Regions from separate parts of the Homo sapiens genome. Here region 1 is linked to region 2. Evidence: fine-mapped expression QTL. Tissue or cell type: whole blood. Region 2 holds a variant in brackets; the other region holds the start of a gene. All regions are shown on one strand. Distances are between the middles of the regions.

The links. PIP is the estimated chance that this variant, and not a neighbour inherited with it, causes the effect.
Region 1: it holds the start of ZCCHC24, and the variant in region 2 is fine-mapped to the expression of ZCCHC24 in whole blood (TOPMed, PIP above 0.99).

Annotation. Positions count from the first base shown.
Region 1 is chr10:79,440,565-79,450,376 of GRCh38, reverse strand. It overlaps ZCCHC24 (zinc finger CCHC-type containing 24), which reads left to right and starts at 4,753. Exons shown (of 4, transcript NM_153367.4): 1 at 4,753-5,182. The coding sequence starts at 4,937. LOC105378383 (a long non-coding RNA gene) reads right to left here and starts at 4,136. Exons shown (of 4, transcript XR_946104.4): 1 at 1,531-4,136. RefSeq lists silencers at 4,321-4,830, 4,841-4,900.
Region 2 is chr10:79,409,516-79,419,327 of GRCh38, reverse strand. The region is part of intron 2 of ZCCHC24 (zinc finger CCHC-type containing 24); the gene reads left to right. Among named protein-coding and RNA genes, the nearest start is that of ZCCHC24, 31 kb to the left of the region's middle. RefSeq lists enhancers at 5,411-5,919, 5,920-6,430. The variant C/T (reference allele first, on the strand shown) is at 3,848.

The sequences.
Region 1 (9,812 bases), 31 kb before region 2:
CTGAGGATGGTTCCTCAGGGAGCAGGAAGCCCACTAGGCCTGCTCCAGTGACTTCTAGGTCCAGGGTGTTCTGCCAGTTTTCCCAGACCACACACAAACCCTAGGCTCCTCACACCCAGGCTGGGACCCCTCATGCCCATGTCATACTGTCCAGCCATGAAACCAAGCAGGCATTCTCTTAGGGCTTCTAGAGGCCAGGGCCCTCAAAGTGTCTCCTGCCTCCCCGTGTCATCTGGGATTCCAACAGCAGTGGGAAGATTTTATACACTAGGAAATGGTCCAGGGGAGGAGACTCAACTTGTCAGTGTCACACAGCCCAGGAAGTGACAGTCTCCAAAGCCCCAGGCACTTTCCACACCTTGGAACCTGCAAGGAGCGGTAGGCTGAGTTTAAGATTCAAGGACCTACCCACCCTTTGCTGCTCAAGATAAACTTAAAGGCTACTCAAGAGCCTGTGGGTGGGGCCTGGAGTGGTCAGACTGCCCTTATGGTTTTGCCATCTGTGCACTGCACAAAGAAGTTGGGGGCTAGTTGGGGCTGAAATCTGGTTAGTGTAAACAGCAGGGCTGCATCCATGGAAGGAGGAGGTACTCTGTGTGTGTGTGTGTGTGTGTGTGTGTATGTAAAGGTGACTTGAGAGAGAGAGTGTGTGTGTGTGTGTGTGTATGTGTGTGTGTAAAGGTGCCTTGAAACCTGGATTTTAGCTCACTGGGTTGGTTCTATGGCAAAAAGAGCAATTACTTTTGCACCAACCTAATAATTCTGCACAGTCACCATAGGGTTTAGAGAGCAGCCTGGGAAGGTGGATATAAAGTTAACATGGCAAATAATTTGCGTCTTCAGGGCCAATTCCAGCATCTCATTAGTGGTGACGTGGGGTGCTGTATTGAGCAGGAACCTGAAGTCTTGCCTGGGAAGGGGATCCGCACTCAGAGAGGTCTGTCCTGGGTGGGGGATGGGGCAGTGGTGCCTGTAAGGAGAGTATTTGCCATTTTGCCATCTCTGCTGTAAACTGACACCTTCTGTGTCAACACACAGTCCAAAGGAACCCAATGCCCAGCCCTGGCCTAAAGGAGAGGCAAATCTTAGCTTTGTCAGTGTGTGCTTTGCTATTTATTCCTGACACATGGAGTGTGGGTGGTTTGAAGAGGGTTAGGGGTTCCTTCACCTGATAAATCACCATGGGGCGTTTTTTACAGAAATGAGAAGCATCAATTTGCACAGGATTGTGAAGCCCCATCTTCTGCCCCTGCTCATCTCTGCTTGCCTCCTGGGCTGAATTTGAAGGCTGACTCCCTCATAAAGACCAACTGCTTCCTCTTCTTGCCCAGGTTTCTCCTGCTTCTCTGAGCTCAAGGCTCTTGGTTTGATACTCCACCAAACACTTATCAGACCTGTTACCTGGGCAACTTTAGGAGCAGACTTTTTCCTACTTGTCCCCTCCTGCCCACATTTCTCCAGATAAATTGAATATTACTGTTACTGCAAGTATCAATATCACCCTCCCGTCACGCATGACTGCCTACTCACTCAGGGAACAGCAAAGCTCCTTCCTCTTTGCATCCTCCTTGGATCCTGTCAGTCACTGTAGAAGTTGGTAAGGATGGGATCAACATTCCCATCTGATACCTGGAAAAACTGAGGTTTACAGAGAGGGCAGGCCTACCCAAGGTCACTGGGCCAGGTCTTTCCTCCAAATCTTGTGTTCATTCCACTGACCCATTCTGGAGACTGTGGGATGGCTGGAGCCACTGGACAGGGAAGGGGACAGGGATGTGAGCCTCACCTGGGTGCTCCCTCCTGCCTTCCAGTCTGAGGACAGTATATGGGGCCAGAGCTGCCACACCTGAATGCTGCCACACTGGGATCAATGAAGAGAGAGCTGGGAGGTAGTAGTGGGTTAGGAGCAGGTGGCTTAGCTATCAGGTTTACTGAGAGACCCTGGGATGGTTCTTTTCCTTCTCTGGGCCATGGTACCTCCTCCTTTGTAAAGTGAGGGCTTGGAACCTCTGACATTTTAAATGCAGAGTTCCTTAGTGTGCACATGATAGGGCAAGAAGGTGCAGAGTTTGGGCGTGGCCCGGTCTTCTGGCCTGGTACCTAGGCCTCTGATACCCATCTGGTCACTCTCACCTATTACCCTCTCCCACCGTACATGTTGTTTCAGGGGATCCTGGAGCATGCATTCCCAGCAGCTGGCTGAGGGCTGACCTTAGGTCAATCAGTTGCCATCCAGGCAAACTGCCTATAGGATGCTCATATTTATTAGTCACCTACTGGGTACAGAGCCCACATGTTGAGCAGCTGTCCTGTGGGCAAGGAGAGGGAGAAAAGTACAAAACCAAAGAAGCCGCTCAGGCTTCAAAGAGGAGCAAAATCTGGGCATCCATGCGTCTCTCCACCTATTCATTCAATCATCAACCCAGCAACTATTTCCTGATTATTTACTATCTATGCTCCAGGCTCTGGGTAGAAACTATGTTGGGGAGAAAGAGGCAGAGGCCATCAATGTGGTCACCAGGCATGATAAACACCTTCTTGGCATCAAATCACTCTGAAGGACACAGGGAAGGATCAGAGGTTTCTCTAAGCAGGTGTCAGATTCCTAGTTATGTCCCCTCCCTGAACAGCAGTTTTCTCTATAAAATCTAGGGAAGGTCTTATCAGTGGTTCCAAATCCTACCTCCATCCTTGGAAGCTCAAAGACAGCAGCAGAGTTCCAGAGATAATCCCAACTATTTCTTTTGGTGTGGGGGCGGGGGGTACAAAGTTTCACTCTGTTGCCCAGGCTGGAGTGCAGTGGCATGATCTCGACTCACTGCAGCTTCCACCTCCTGGGCTCAAGTGATCCTTCCACCTCAGCCTCCTGAGTAACTGGGACCACAGGCATGCGCCACTACGCCCGGCTAATTTTTGCATTTTTTTGTAGAGATGAGGTTTTGCCATGTTTCCAGGGCTTGTCTGGAACTCCTGGGCTCAAGCAGTCTGTCTGCCTTGGCCTCCCAAAGTGCTGGGATTACAGGTGAGCCATTTGCAAGAACCGTGTACCTACTCTTTAAACAAATAGGTTTAATACTGTTTAAAAATATAAAGGGTACTGTATAGATGTGTTCTTGATGAATGAAAATATGAAGACATGATTGATACATATGCTGTCGTTTGTATTAATAACTGCAAATTGATAGACAAGATGGAGATCTGAGATCCAAGGGCCTCTTGGTTGGTGAAAAAGGGTGGCATTTGGTCATCACTGAAGGCCTTCGTGGTGCGAGCGACCATAGATGTGGTTAGGTGCCCTGCAGGTGATGTGAGTAACTCGTGGAGTGGGTGGCGGGGAAGAGCTGTCCTTTATGGAATATCTTCCGCTTACCAAACCCAAGCTGGGAAGCACACAAATGTCCCCGGCGGCGGGAGGATGACTGCTCCCATTTTACAGAGGAGAAAACAGGCTTGCTCGCAGAGGTTAGGCGTCATGCAGAGGTCATTCCGCTGGACGGTGGCCAAGCTGGCACTCCAACGCTGGGCGGAATGGCTCCAGAGCCAGACTGAAAGTGGGAGAGGTGACTCGGTCCCAGCCAGGCGGTGAGTTCCTCTGGGCTAGGTCCCCGGTGCTGGCGCAGCAAAGACCACCCGGAGAAAGAGACGGTGAAGGCCCCGGGGCTTCCTGGGGCGTCAGGCGGAGGCGGAGGCGGGGGCGGGGCTCCCTCCAGGCAGTCTTGGACTAGCTGAGTTGTCCCAGCGAGATGGGTGACAGCCGCTTTCCCGAGCTCCCCCGGCCCAGGCTGGTGTCCTGGCGACTCGCCAAGGCACCGGGGCGGGCTAGGGCTGGAGCCGGGGTGGAGGAAGAGGGTCGAGAAGCGAGGCGGGCCCAGAGCAGAAATAGGAGAAGGGGGGGGGGAGGGGGCGGGGAGTCTTTCCTGGGGCAGGAACCCGGGCCCCCCTTGGCGCAGCCGGCCCGCAAAGTGATTCTGCAGATGGAAGGAATTAAGTAGGAGGGGGAGGGTCCGATGGTGATAGCGAGAGGAGGGAGTTAGAAGTGTGTGCGTCTGTGTACACGCGTCTGAGAGAGGAGCGGGAGAGACAGGGAGAAACATCAGACCAGACGGAAATAGAAGAAAGGAGACAAGAAGAGTGAGAGAAAGAGAAGGACATACACACACACACACACACACACACACACACGGAGGGCGCCACATACAAGGACGACGGACACAGGAGACTAGTACTAGTCTAAGAGAGAGAGAAAGAAGGAGTATGAGAAAGGAGGGAAAATAGGAAAGGAAAAGTGAGTGAAAAACAATTGCAGAGGATTTGGAAAGAACGAGACAAGAGCGCTGACGACAGAGGGAGACGAAATTGATTAGGCCGGGGCTGCACTGAGCTCCCGGCAGCTCGGGGAGCTGGGTTGGCCGGGCTGGGACGAGGTGGGGCTTGGGCGGGGCCTCGCATGGGCGGGCCCGCGCCGTGCTGCATATGCAGATGAGCCTCACTCCCCTCTCTCCCCACCCCTGACGGTTCATATTCAACGAGACAGCCAATGCAGGGCGAGGACAGTGCCAGGCGGGGCAGGGAGTGGGCGGCGGGGCATCGTGGACCCCACCCCCGGAGCCGCCGCTGGAGGGGTCAGCCGCGAGGCAGATAGCGGATCGCCGGGCGGGGCGGGACGCAGTGGGCGGGGCGGAGGGGCGGGGCCAAAAGTTTCCTGCCCAACTTTCGCTGCCTCCTTCCACCGCCTGCGCGCGCCGGGGCCGCAGTCGGGGGGAGGCGGCGGCAGCGGCAGCGGCTGCGGGCAGCGCGCGGGGCGCAGGGCGCGGGGCGATCACCGTCGGGGCTCGGGAGGCGGGCAGTGGGCACAGGCTCCCCGGTGCCCGCCCCTCCGCTGCGGAGGGGGGCCGCGAGCGGGCGGCCGGGGAGGGGCCGGCACCGCCGCCACAAAATGAGCCTGCTGTCGGCCATCGACACGAGCGCCGCCTCGGTGTACCAGCCCGCCCAGCTGCTCAACTGGGTCTACCTGTCGCTGCAGGACACGCACCAGGCTAGCGCCTTCGATGCCTTCCGGCCCGAGCCGACCGCCGGCGCCGCACCCCCGGAGCTGGCCTTCGGCAAGGGCCGCCCCGAGCAGCTGGGCTCGCCCCTGCACTCCAGCTATCTCAACAGCTTCTTCCAGCTGCAGCGCGGAGAGGTGGGTGCCCCCGCGCGCCCCCGCCCACCGCCCCACCGCCCCACCGCCCCACCGTGGCGGGCCGTTCCCTGTCTGACCCGCTCTTCCTGGCCTGGCGCGGCCCGGCTCCGCATTGCCGGGCCCGGCTTGGCTTGGCTTCGTTCAACTCTGCCAAACTCGCCGCCCGAAGTCCCCGGGGTGCCGGGTGCGCGTCACCTCCCGGCTGAGCCCGGGCTGGAGCAATGCAGGCCGGGGCGGAGCTCTCCCGCCCCCTCTCCCTGCCAGGGCAGCCCTGCTCCAAAGGGGTTGGGGGAGGGAGTTGAGGAGGGGTTGTCTCCGGATTTTCTTCAGACAGCTGGGGTGCGGCCTGGGCGGGGAGCCCCTTCGAAGTGTCCTTCTCACGCCCAACCTTATCCTCGTCCTGGCCACCGCGGGCTGGGACCGAGAGTGCAGATTCTGCTCGGAGCTCCTCTGGAAGGGCCTAAAATCTTTTCTCCGACCTCTGCGGTTCCCGACCCGAAAGGCACCCTGGAGAGCAGTGACTGCCCAGAGGGCTTCTCCTGCTGTTCTCACTCGGGGACCCCAGATACGTCCTCCAGCTGCTCGCCCTCCCCCAGCCACATAGGAAGTGGTTTCTGAGGGCTTGACCCCACAGACTGCGCTGTCCCCAGCCCTCCCAGCCTCGAAGGAAATGAAAGGGAAATCCTCTTGAGCTCTTGGGAGGGGGGCTAGAAAGGGGGGGGGAGAGGTTCCAGCTGCCCAGCGCCTTCTGCAGAAACCTGGGCCGGCTGTGTTGCAAAGTCTGCCTGTTTGGTGGATTCAGTTACAAAGTTGACTGGGCAGCGCCTCTTTGCCAGCAAGATAAATACACAGATCGCCACCACCTCCCAGCCCTTTTTGAAGAGTCTCCAGGGCCTGCCCAGATACCACTCCTTTCCGTGGGCTGGACTCCTCCCCTCCCTCCATTTACTCCTGCCTCATTTGGGAATTTCAGACACCCATCTGTGGCCTTCACTTCCTCCCCTTGTGGGGGTTTTCTCTGCAAAGATGCAAGAGGTGTGTTCGGGGGAGGACACACATGGGGGTCACTTTCCTTCCAGACCTGGGCACACCGGTGAGTTTTAGGAGAGTCAGAGTCCTGAATGGGTTGGGGAGGAAAGCCTATGTACGCAAGGGTGTGCTGGGGGTAAGAGAGGGAGGCAGAGGGTCGCCCTTGAGTTCAACTCTGCCATTATTTACTAGGGGAGGCATGGACATATAAAATGCTGGCCCAAGGCCAACACTACCCAGGCTGACCTGTTGACCTGGGTGGGTAGAACAGGCGTGGGAGGGGGCTGGGTGCAGAGGAGGAAGATGAGTCTGAAAGTGCACCCTTTGGTGTCAGGCAAAAGCATTTCTATGCCAAAGCTCTTTGTAAACTGTAAAGCATTCTCTCCACGTGAGGAATGGTTCTTGGCTGGGGATCTTTCTTTCTTGTAAGAGACTTTTCTGCCTCTTCAGGGAATTGGCTTCAGGTGACCAGTGACTGGAGGACCGTTTGTGGGGTGTTTCTTTGGTGCATGCGTCTTTTCAGTTGTTTGTTCTCTTACCAAACATTTGTTGAGCTCTGGGCAGGACCCGGGGATTCACAGCCACAGGCTAGTGGGGGCCACGGATGAGTAAACAGACAAGGTGATAGAGGGTATGAATGGTGGGTGATTTGATGGGGGTGCTTGTGGGAGCCCCACGGGAGTTTCTCACCCTGGGAGAAGGGTGAACATGACCCACAGGTCAAGTGTGGACCCCTAATCAACCTCTTCTAGCCTCCCTCTGCTCCCCCTACCATGGTGGCATTGTTCCCCACCTGTGGGTCTCCCCTGAGAGGACCTGGGAGTTTGGAACCATCAAGAGTACCCTATAAGAATAGGATGTTGTGCTGCTTTTTGAAAATTTCTGGCATCCAGGATCCCAACCGGAGCTCAGTGAGAACTGCCCTCTGTCACTTCATTGCTGCGTACCTCAGTTTCCCCATAAAGTCACACAGTGTGAAAGGAGCAGGAAAAGGTTATACTGTATAGTGCAGTGGTGGGGAAATGTCTTTCACAACCTGACTTCAGGGAACCCCGTCTCTCTCTGGGCCTTAGCTTACCTATCTGTTAAATTTAGTCTCTGCTACACCCCAGGATGGTATATCTATAGTATTTGAGACCTGTTCAAACAAGAGAGGGCTGGGGGAGTCAAGAGGGGCTTCTCTGATGTTCACAGGCCAGTGGCTTCCTCGGAGGTGATGGAGGGCTGTGCCTGCTGACTTCCGGAAGGCTCTCTTGGCTTCAGGCTCACTCATCCTCACCCCCCACCCACTTTGCCTCCTAAACCCTCTCAAAGCCTCAGCTGTGTTCCTGAGGACAGGCCTTTCCTGCGCCCAGGGCTTAGCTGGTGACCTAATATGGCTCCAAAATAGCAACTGGCTGAGAAGGCAAGAAAAAATACCCCCCACCCCAATGCCACCAAGGGGCTGGTCGGAGAGGAAGCAAGTCGTGTGTGGGCCGGAGGGGACTCTACGGAGGGACCCAGGGGGCCCAGGAGCATCACCATTCTGTGCGAGGCCTGGCAGGCCCAGTGGCAGTGCCTGCGGATGTGACTTGCATGCTGACCACTGACCACGGCCTGTCTGCGCCAACCCCTGTGCCAAGAGCCCACCCCCTCCTGCACCACCCCCAGGCTGCTCCCACCACAATAGCAAAACACCATGAATGCAGCTGGGATTTGAGGGGGGGTGAGGACATGGGGGCACAGAAGCCCATTGTGCCCCTGGAACCTCAGCTCTGGAAGCTGAAGATAAGCCAACGGTTCTGAGTGGCACACTGGCCCTGAGAGCAGAGAGAGAGATGGCAGAGTTCACACCAGAGTTCCTGGTGCAGGAGCAAGCACCAGGAGGTGACTTGGATTCTTGTGGGGACTTCCCAGCTTGTGGTGAGGGTGCCAGGCCAAAGCGGACACAAGCACCTTGCACAGTTTCTTAAAAGGCTTCTGGGTCTACAAACTAGGCCCCGTGAAACCCAGTTTCAAAAACCTGATCTACGGCAACAACGATACATTTTTGGAAAGGGATTCCTAAGGCCCTTGGCTGAGCCCCTTCTCTCTCTCCAGGTACCCAAGGAAGGCAGTTCTTAGATGGAGTAGGGGCTGGGCTGCATGGGGTCTTCCCTGCCAAGTCTTGTTTGGAACTTAAATTCACAACCGTAAAGGGGCTATGGGAGTCATTTCTGGAAAAGCTGAGTTACCTCCTTGTGAAGATGGCCTCTTGGGCCCCTTGAAGGGCTGCCCAGAGCCCCTGCCAGGTAGTCCCTGTACCCTCCAGCCTCCAGGGAGATGTGGCTGTCTCACTCCATTCAGGTAGAATTCTTAGGGCAGCTGTTCTCTTTCCCTCTTTCTCCAGGGACAGACGTAGCTGGAAGGTGTGGCCCTACTGTCAAGAGACCCCCACTTTGTGAATGTTGGGGGAGGGACTTTGTGGTCAAATACATTTGGAAGACACAGTGTCCTTCCTTTCCCTTGGAAACACACAGTGCCCACTAGCACAGGAAAGGCCCTGAGAACTCCTGCAGTGCAAAACCTGTTAACCTTTCTTCAGCTTGACAGTTCCCACACCTATTTGAGCAGAGAACATTTTTGGCTCAGGACACCTGTCAGTGTCCTTCCTGGAAAACCTCTTCATTGTTGGATAGTTCCAACCTTTAGGAAGCTCTTCCTAGAGCATCAGCCTCTGCAGCAATGAACCTCCTCTTTGCTGCTCAGGTCTACCCATTGGAGGTTTGAGAACAGTAGCAAGGGTGTCACAAGGCTTAACAAATGGCCTTTCCCTGGGCCCAGCCCTTCTGTATGGACATGGCCATTAAAACCCTTAGAGGAGTACATACAGTGTCCTCCTTTAAAAGGCCCCAGTCTTGACAGTTTTCCGAGGGTTTGGATGTGCCCTCAACAGACGGAGATAAGCCCACGGGCTGCCTGACCAGTGTGGATGTGTGGAACAAAGCCACATTTCTGCCCAAGAATATGAGGTGCCTATGTTCGAGAGTGGGCTTAAGGAGCTCAGGTGGGTTCCCAGCAGCCTTTGTGGTGTGTGTGTGTGTGTGTGTGTGTGTGTGTGTGTGTGTTTAGGGGGCAGCTCCAGGGCCTGAGAGTAATGGCCATTCTATCCCAGCCCAGAGTTCGGGAGGATGCTCCCAGCTCTCTTGGCCACCCTTGGGAAGCTGAAGTGTGACTCAGGCAAGGAGGACCGTCATTTGAGAAGCTGTTGGCTGAGGCAACCTGACCCTCCCTCTGTCAGATTACGTTGACTGGACAGGCATGGACTCAGAGGGAAGACCACACCTCGTGGACCTTCTGAGTCAGGTGGGAGGGAGGAAAGCAGACAGCATTAGTAATCAGTAAGTGGCAGCAGCAGGGAGCCAGATGCTGTCAGTACCCAGAGGAGGGCTCCGGGAGGAGATGGCCCTAGTGGAACAGTCCTCTGCTCTTGGGTGGTGCTCTATTCATGGCCTCTCTTTCCTCATAGCTTCCATTTTTTGCAGAAGAGGACACAGAGGCCTGGCAAGTCACCTAGCCAGTCAGTGGGAGAGCTAGATCTAGAATTCTTCTGTGTTCCAGCTACGGGTTGCATCTGCGACCC
Region 2 (9,812 bases):
TGTGTGTGGAAAGCGTCTAATGCAGGGCTTGGCATCCCACAAGCACTCAGTAAGTAAGTGGCAGCCCTCACTGTTGGTATCACTTGTTAGGCCGTGGGGCTTCCTGAGCCAGATCTGCCCTCATTTGTAAAGTGAGGCTCATGTACCTGATGGGAGGGTTGGTGTGAGGGAGATGAGAAGCAGCCCGGATACCTGGGAAGCAACACCCACCGGAGCCCCTCTCCTTCTCCCTGACCCACCCCTGCAGCTGCTTAATTTCATGCATGCACGCAGACACATATGTGCACACATGCAAACGTGCGTGCATGCACACACCCCTTGGGCTTCTCAGCCTCAAGGCCTTGCTCACACTGTCCCCGAGTCTGCAATGCCTTTCCCGAATCTCTTCTCTCCTATCCCCCTTTCAGAGCCCAGCTTGAGCCCACCTCTCTCAGGGAGTCTTCCCCAACCATCCAGGGCCTCAGAGCTCTCCTCTCTGAACCCTAACTTGTCAGGACAGCACCCCTTCCCCAGAACCTGGTTTTAAGGCCCTCAAGAGGTAAGAAATCTCAACCAGGTTTCTCATCTTTCCCCCATCCCCATCTGGCCCCTAGGGGACAGAGAATGCCCCTCTTTGGGTGGGCTTCACTCTGCCCTGCCCCAGTCCTGGAAGGTAGCCCAGCCTGGGCCGTTTGACCTCTGCTCAGCCTTCTCATCCCCACTCCACCTGTGCTATGGCCTTAGCCAGTGACTCTCTCATCTCCCCCAGGTTCAGCCCAAACACGTCCTCTTGCATGGTGCAGCCCCTATGCCCTTCTATGCCCCATGTGCTCCTGCCTTGGTGAGTCGTGCCTAGCCCAGGGCCGGTCCTGGCACAAGTCTGTCTCCTACTTCCTGAGGTCACTTCCCAGGCGAGGTCTGTGTCTGCCTGGCAGGCAGAGGGAGCATGGCCTTGGGGTCAGAAGGCCCGAGCTCTCATCCCAGGGCTGTCTCTCTAGCTGTTCAACATTGGCCAAGTTGACCTTACCCTTGGGCCCCCACACCCCCATGCATGAAGTGGCATCAGCAATGAAGCCTGTCTCTCAGGGCTTCTGTGAGATCCAGAGGCGATCAGACAGGTGAACGCGCTTTGAGAACTGTGAAGTTATACCATTTGCTCCACTGCCCAGCGAGCAGCCACATTTGCTGAGATGATCAGAGGTGTGCGAGCGAGGGTGTTTAGGCCTTGGTGGCTGCTGTGAGCTGACCCCTGCCTCAACTGCCATGGGGTCTTGGAGGCATATTTGTGAGGGCAGCATTTTCCCTTTCCACCATGTCTGGGGTGGCTGCCCAGGGTGGAGCCTGTGTTGGGTGCCTCCTGCTCCCAGTGGCTTTGTGTGGAGTGGGAGGTGGCCCAGCTGGGGCAAGGTGGCCAGATCCCAGCCTGTGGGTTAGAGGACTTGGCACCACTGACCTGGCCTGACTTGGAGACATGGCTCCTCAACACACCGCCCCCACTCCCTCCCATTCCAAGGCTCAGGGCTCAGAGAAACGGGGCAGCAGGTGCAGGGAAGAAATGTGCATGGAATGGGGGTGAGGAGCCCGAGGACATCAGGCCTTCCTCATGCCTGGCTCACGGAGCACCTTCGTCTCATTTGCTGGCTGGGTTCTTACACTCACCTGGATGTCATCTGTGGCCCATGTGCCCACTCTTCTTCTCTTTCTTCATCTCTGTCTCTCATCCTTTCTTCCTCTTTTCTTTTGTAACAGATTACATAACTTGCCCCTGGTCCCACAGCTGGTTAGGATCAGGCCAAGTCAGTCTGACCTTAGGCCGTGCCTTTCCCACTGCTCCCTCTGCCCACAACAACGGATGGGGGTCCATCCTCTAGGACATGCTGTAGACCTGCTGATCTCCAGCCCTGGCAGAAATCAGGCTGCAGGAGGCACTGTGAACCCAGGCCTTCCTCCCTGCCTGGCTTCCTCCAAGTTCCCTGGCTGTGTGGGAGCCACAGGTCTCTCCCTGACAGGTTGGGGTGATGGTGAGGTGGAGGGGTGCCCCCAAAGCAGTAGGCATGATGACAAGGGGTAAAACCCAACAGGGGCCCATGCTCCTCTGCTCCTTCCTGGGGACTGTGAAGCTCAAACAGAGCCTTGTGCCCCTCCCTCCCGCAGGCCCTCTGAGCCCTCCCCATGCATCAGTCCTCCCTCTGTGTTCCCAAAACACCCTGCACAAACGGCTTAGTATTTTGTATTCTCTTTTGATTGTGATCCCGGGGAGGGGGAAGGCTGGCAGAAAATCACTTAGCGCAGCACCTGGCACATAGTGAGTGCTCAGCAAGTGTGAGCCATTGCGTTGCTGTGGCTTCAGTGCGCCATCCACAGTGTCTGCCGTGGTGCCCACTCTGAGCAGGGCCCCGTCATAAGGGAAACATATTAACAGCACAGCAGCTACACGCACAGGGAGCGCTCACTGTGTTCCGGGCACTGCTCTGAGCACTTTTCACCCATTGACTCCTCTAATCTTCTCATGGCCCTTGTGCTGGACACTCTTCTTATCCCCATTGCACAGAGGAGGAAACTGAGGCACAGAGAGGCTAAGTGACTTGCCGAGGGTCACACAGCTTGGACATGTTCCCCAGCAGTCTTGCTTCAGAGGCTGTGCTGTCATAAATATGTGCAAAAAAAGGAAGAAATGAACAAGACTCAGGATGTGGAGGAGGAAAGAAAGGCAGGGAGCTAATGTTGACTGAGCATCCTCCATGTACCAGCACATCACTGATGTCTTCAGAGACGTCAAGGGATTCGCCCAGAGTCACACAGGAGCCAAGGGCATGGCTGGGATTTGAGCCCTGGGTGATTTCTAATCCCCTCCTCCCCACCTTATCCCACCAGCTCAGGCCTCAGAGAGCCAGCACAGTTCATCAAGGGCCCCCTGGACACCCCCAGCAGCCTTGGACCACATAGCTGAGTTGGAGGCAAGACAAGGAATTACTCAGTGAGGCCACTCATTACCAACGCGTTTGGTTCTAACCAGCCATAGGTGAGGAGTTTAGAGGAAGGAGCAGAGCCAAGTGGGCGACCTTGAATAAGCCCATTGCCCTTGCCACACCTCAATTTCCCCTTCTGTGCAGTGGACCCAGCAATATGCATCCTGTCCCTCTAGGCTGCCGTGTAGGTCTTATGAGCTAACAAAGCTGGAAATGACGAAAGCCAAGCTGAACAAAAGTTAAGAGCTTTGTAGGAATAAAAATACTTTTATTTATGAACATCTAAAGGCTTTGCCTAAAAGTGTGGTCAGTGGACCGGCAGCAGTGGCAGTACCTGGAGCTTATCAAAAATGCGCAGCCCGGGTCCTCAGGCTCCACCCCAGTCCTGCTGGGTCAGAGTCTGCATTTTCACAAGCTTCCCCCATCACCCATGGGAAACACTGGTCTAGGAATTTCTTGCTTCTCAGTTCCCCATTCCCGGAGGCTGCCTCTTGGGCCTTCTTTCCATAGCCTACAAGGGGTTCTTGGCAGGAAATTCCCATCTCGTTGGAGAAAATGCTGTGGCCCAGCCAGACCCCTGCCCTGCTCAACTGCCTAGGAGATATGAGTGCATCAGAATTAAGCTGAAGTTGGGCAGAGGCTCTAACAGCCTCTGTCACTCCAACAACCTCTGATGAGACCATTTGTTGGGAGTGCAGCTGCCACCAGAATCAACAAGGCCTTTCAGACCTGGGAGAGGGTGCAGGGAGGAGTGAGGGGGTACCCTCAGCCTGGGCTCAGTAGGGCTAGGGGTTTCTTCTGAACAAAGGGCATTTGTACCAGATATTCTCCACCTTCACCCAGGAAGGCAAAAGGTTGAAACCGCAGTTGGAATATTCCAGGTTAGAAATAAGAAGCAA[C/T]GTCCCAACTGATCAGGAGCAAGCCAGCCAAGGACACTGAAGACTCCATCCCCTTAAATGTGTGGCCAGTGTGTGTGAGGTCAAGAGGCAGAGCTGGAACGGATTCCCAGAGGCCCTCTGCCCACCGTCCTGCCCTGAGACCATTTTGACTTCAAGGGGCCAAGGGACTCACCTAAGGTCACATAGCAAGGAGCCCTGGGTTCTGATTCCCTGTGCCTGGGGCCCCTCTTCATTGCAGGCCTTCCTGGAGGCTGGGGAGTGACCTTGATGACCTTAGCAACCTCCCTTGAAGCAGCCTGGAGGTTTTGAGCATGTCAATGGGAGGACGGGAGGGGCTGGCTTTGTGAGCCTAGCAACTCAGTGTGTCTCACTGTGTCTTAGCCTTCATGGTACCCAAGATCATTAGGAATACCCCAGGGGCAGAAGTCCTCTGAGACAGATGCGGTGAGTCAGGGACAGGAAACCTGGACCCAAGGGGTCCAGGTAGAGGAAGCAAGTAGAGGCTTGGGAGGCCTGACATTGATGAAGAGCCTGGGGACCAGTGCTGTGTATCCTTAGGCCAGTTACTTGCAGTCTCTGTTTCCCTATGTGTAATATGGAGGAGAGGTTAGACAAGATCAGTGATTCCATCTCGGGCTTCACATTAGAACCACCTGGGTTTTTTTTGGTTTTGGTTTGGTTTTTGGTGCTAGAAATTTGAATTCAGTAGATCCAGGGTGGGCCTGGCCAAGGGCATATTCCTAGCTCCCCAGGTAATTCTGACGTGCAGCTGGGCAAAAGCACCATTGCCAGGTCTGAGATGGTGGGGTGCTCTGGCAGCTGTGGTGGCTGCAGGTGATCATAACCACAATTATCCTCCTGAGGTCCTGGGAATGCAAGATTACAAGGTTCCGGGAGACTCCCAAATGAACATTCCAGAGGTTCTAGATATCCAGAGGTTCCAGATGTTCAACCTCAGATTCCCTAGGTCATGTGACTGCAGCTTTATTATTCTGAGAAGTGAAGCTTCCCACAATGGAGGATTCTGACACTTGAGTGTTCTGGTTTTGTGACTTTAAGAGTGTGAGATTCTATAATCATTCTGTATACCTCAAGTACGTGCTTCTGAAACCTTCCGTGTGTTTCTGTGTTCCAACTGCAGTTATTATTCTTCTCTAAAATGAAGATTCTCCATGTCTGTAATTCCAACACATTCATTATCCCAAATTCTAGAGACTCCAAGAACTTAAGCTATTGTGGCACTAATATTTTTTAAAATTCTAAATTCAGCAACTCTGTGACCTGTCATTCCATCTGGGCAGTTGGCCGCCAAGGCTTGGGCCCAGACTTTGTCTCCTTGAGACAAGGTGGTGATCGTATAAGCTGGGACACGTGCCCCCTCACCTCCTTGGCCTGGAGAGCCTGTCTTGGTGGAAGGGGTGAGGGTGGGGAGAACAGAGACCCCACGGAGCTCTCACTTCTTTGGCTCTTCCTCCAACACTGGCTGTAGAGGACTGGAAGGTGGAGCAAGTGTGAGGGGCACATGTGGCCATGCGGCAAGGAGGGCAGCAGGTGGACATACAGCTACATCCCCGAATTGCTGCTTGTATCCACCCATCTCACAGCAAAGCTGTGAATTCTCTGTGTCAGACTGGCTTAGACATTAGAGGCTATCACATCCGAAGCACCTCCCTAAACTCTCTCTCTCTCTCTCTCTCTCTCACACACACACACACACACATGCGCACGCACATATACCCTTTTTCCACCTAGGAAAACTAAGGCCCAGAAGGAGGAGGTGACATGCCTGATAGAGCTGGCATCCAAACCCAGGGCCCTGAACTCCCGGTTGTCATTGCATGGTCCTTTCCAGCTAGTCAGGCCCAGGTCTGGCTTTCTGCACAGAACCATCAGCTTTCTATAGCTGACTTTCAGGTCCCTCCAAGGGGACAGGGACCAGCCCGGTGACTCAGGATTACACATTTAAAGCCTGTAGCCTGGCGGATTTCACTAGGCCCAGGAGAGGCTCCCCCTGCCCCCGCATGACCTCCTGGCCGTTTCCTGCCTGCCTGACCACAGTCTTCCGTTCCACTCCCCCAGGACGGGTGCCCGCCTTGTGCCAGTGCACATCAGGCTCAGAGGCCAGGAGGCAGAGGCTGGGCTGGAGTCAGGCGTGGGGAGGGGTCCCGCCACTCACTCACTGTGTGACCTTGAAAAAGTCTCTCCACCTCTCTGGGCCTCTCCATGCTGTGGGCCGGTGGATGGTAATTGACAGAGTTACTGTGAGGATTAAATGAGACCCCAGGGGAAAACCCAGCATGCTGGGAGGGGAGGGGCAGAGGCTGGTCACATCCACCGCCCACTGGTCCCCTCAGCACTGAACCCATTTTGGATGAGTGGCTTGTGTTTGTTGAAGGTGTCTGGGTAGACTTCCATATAATCCTTCAGAGATAAAATGATGGATTGCAGACTCTCCTGGGCTTTCAGAAGGTTGGCTGGTAGAGGAGATAGAGTCCAAAGGCCTTGGACACCTGAGATTTAGGCAGATGTCCAGAAAATGGTGATGATGATGTTGATGGTGGCTATTGTTAACTGAATTCCAGCCATGTGCTTGGTACTCATGAGCTCCTTAAAGCTTCTCGACTGCCTGCCTGATCGATCTTATTATCCCTACTTACACGGGGGAAACCAAGGCTCAGAGCATTTCAGAAACTTGTCGAAGCTCTTGCCGCCAGTAATGGCTAAGTTGGGATTCAAACCCAGGTCTCCAGGACCGCACAGCCAGAGCTCTGTTTCACTTCGTACTCAGCTAGAAGAGGGGACGCAGGGCCACATGATGGATGGTGGCCATCTCTCTACGTGGCTGCAGGCAGTCCACGGCCAGGGAAATAGAAAGACATTTTCTAGAAGAGATGCTAGTGGTTGCCTGTTTTCCTCCCTCGGTGGGATTCTCCCAATTTTCCATGTGGCTATTTTTATCACTTTTAGAAATCTGGAGCTGCCTGTGGCTGCCCAGTCCCTGGAGATGGGTGGAACACACAGGGCTCTGCACAGCCACCCACACCATGTACGTACGCGGGGCTGCCAAGGGGCGAGGGTGTACACGGGCATGTCCGCCCCTCACCGATGCACCTGTGCACACTCGCACAGAGGCTCATGCCGCTGCAGGCTGCTGCCAAGTCCAGGGGACCCAAGAGCTTAGCAGGAAGCTCCTGAGCTACCTCCCTTGGGGTTCTGGAGCCATGGGTCTGCCTTGGCCACTCACTTCCTTGTCAGTTGACTTAAAACGGAGTTGGCAGGTCATGCCACGGTGCGTTCCGCTCGCTCCCTGTGTGCATGCATGCGTGTGTGCATGTGCAGCTGCAGACCTGTGCACACCCAGGCCCAGTTCAGGGCACAGGCTCAATGCCCCCTGTGGAGGCGTAGCAGGAAGTCCTTGCTCCAGGGCTTCTAAAAGCCAAGACTCCCCACGTGGTTCCTCCCACTCGCGAGATTCTGGCCTTCTGGGCTTCTGGGAGCCAGGGAAGGGCAGGAGAGACAGCCAGGGCTCTGTAAGGGGCACATGTGGGGTGCTCCAGGGACTGGGGACGGTGGACTTGCTGGGGGTCCTGCCCTGGCAGAGCAGGTCTCTGGGGCTGAGAAACCTTCTCAGAGTGGGATGGCAGGGTCCTGGGGCTGAGCATGGCACCTCCAGGAGGGGCCGAGGCCTCCTGGAGGTCTCCTGACCCTTCTTCTGTCCTCACAGTTGCTTCAGACTCTCCCTAGCACTGGCCTGGGATCCCAGGAGGCCTGAGCTTGGCCCTGCCTCTCACAGGCTGTGTGGGCTGGAGTCCCCTGGCCTTGGCCTCCTCCTCTGGAAAGTGGGGCACCCGTGGGCAGTGGAATGAGACTTTGGCAGTCCTGCTCTGTGCATATACTGGGCACACTGAGCCCTGGGAGGCTGGGGCCACCTTTCCCTCTAGAATCTGGTTCCATCCTCTCCCTCCTGGGTTTTCTTCCGCTGCAGACTCAACACCCCTTCCGTTGAGTCCTCCTTCATGGCTCTGAAGAATTGTTTTGGGGCCCAGCAGGCAACTTGGAACAGTGGGGAAAGCCCTGGCCTGCCACCGTGGCCTGTGTTCACATGGTTCCTGCTCTGAGCCTATTTGCTCACCTGCAGGGGAGTGTGTGTGTGTTTAATTATAGCACCATGCCAGGATGCCTGGCCACATTAGACTGTAAATCTAAAGACAGAGGTCAAGGCCTCTTTTTACCAGCCCCGAGGTGATTTTCAAATCAGCTTTAGGGTGGATCATACCCCCAAGGGCACCTTGAGCAGGCTCACATGACAGGTTTATAGGCGATTCCTGAGGACAGGAGCCAGGGCAAACAGTTATCATGAGGCTGCCATCCATCACTGTTGCCTGCTGTCCAGTGACGGCCAGTCCTCCTTCCGTCCATCACTGCCGGCACAAGACACCGTCATCACCTTCCCTTGCTCCACCCTGGCCTTGTCCCCCAGTCAGAGCCAGGGCAACCATGGGCCAAGAGGGGAGCTCCTGCCTCAGCCCCCACAGCCCCGCAGCTGATTGAGGCCACACACCTGGGAGTTGCTCTTGAGTCCTTGCTCTCCTCCCCCAAGGCTAGCCCAAGTGCTGCTGACTCAACCTCCTGCCATCTCAGGGGTCTCTCACTCTTCTCCCCTCTGCCACCCATCCCCAGACCACACCCCCACCACCTCTCCCCAGCAATGTGGCAGCACCCCCCTAACTGGTCCCCCCATGTCCAACCCCTCTGTCCACTCAGCAGCCAAAGAGATCTCACAATGCCAGGCAGACTTTCGCATTTTCAGCGCTTCCCTGGCTTCCCATACTCCTGGGCTGATATTTAACTCTAAGATATGGTCTAGGACCTGGACTGGCCTGGCCTCCAAGCCTCAAGCCCTCCATGCTTCCCGTGGTCTAGCCCTTTGCACAGGCTGCTCCAGCCCCACAGGGCCCTTTCCACTGTGACGTCACTCCTCCCCAGCCATGCTGGCCAGATGCTCCCAGAACATGGGGCTCTGCTCATCCTGAGCACATCCCAGAAGGCCAGATCAGTGTTCAAGCATGCTACTTTTGTCTGACTGGTCATCGTGTATTTATTGAGTACCTACTATGTGCCAGGTGCTGCTCCAGGCATGGGACATTCCATAGTGAACAAGAAAGATGAGGAAAGAATGCAGTTCCCAATCTTGCAGGATGACAAATAGTAAAGAAATTGACACCAATGGATATGCTATGGTGGCAGGTCATATTCAAAGACAGTTGTCAGGGATGGTGTCTCTGAGGACATGACAACTTGAGTAGAGACAAATGAAGCAGGAGCAAATGGTGTGGGCATCTGGGGGAAGGGTATTCCTGGCAGAGGGAACAGCAAGTGCAGAGGCTCTGAGTGAGGCACAGATGTGCTTGGCTTGTTTGAGGAAGAGCAAGAGGGCCAGAATGGGCCTCCTGACAGCTCCAGCTCAGAGGGAGAGTTGGCTGGGAGGGGAGGGGCGGAGGCACAGGGTTGAACGCATCCCCTGCCTTGCTCTCCCTTCTCCCGCCTCCTCCCCCAGCTGGGCAGCTCTTCTCTGGGGGACACAGATGGGTGCTTGTCTTGAGAGCCCCCGTCCTCCCCCTGCTCCTCCAAACACTCGCAGTGGGGACAGGAAGTGTCGGCCCTCGCCTTCCAGCTGCCCGGGTGGGACACCACTGAGCTGGGCTGGCCTGCTCAGGGAGGGACAGAGGCCCTATTGAGCCCGTTCCCTGGACCATCAGGGACAATAGCCACACTGAGGACCAGGAACAGCGACCAGCATGCTTGCCCAGGAAGTTGCCAGGCCGCTGCCTGCCCCATCCCCACACCTCCCCTACCCCTCTGGCTTTCTCTTCCAGATACTTCTCTCAGGCTGATAGTCATGTCCAAATGGTCACTTGCCCTTCACCTGCTCCCCAGAGCCCCCTGTCCTGTGCCAGACCCACGC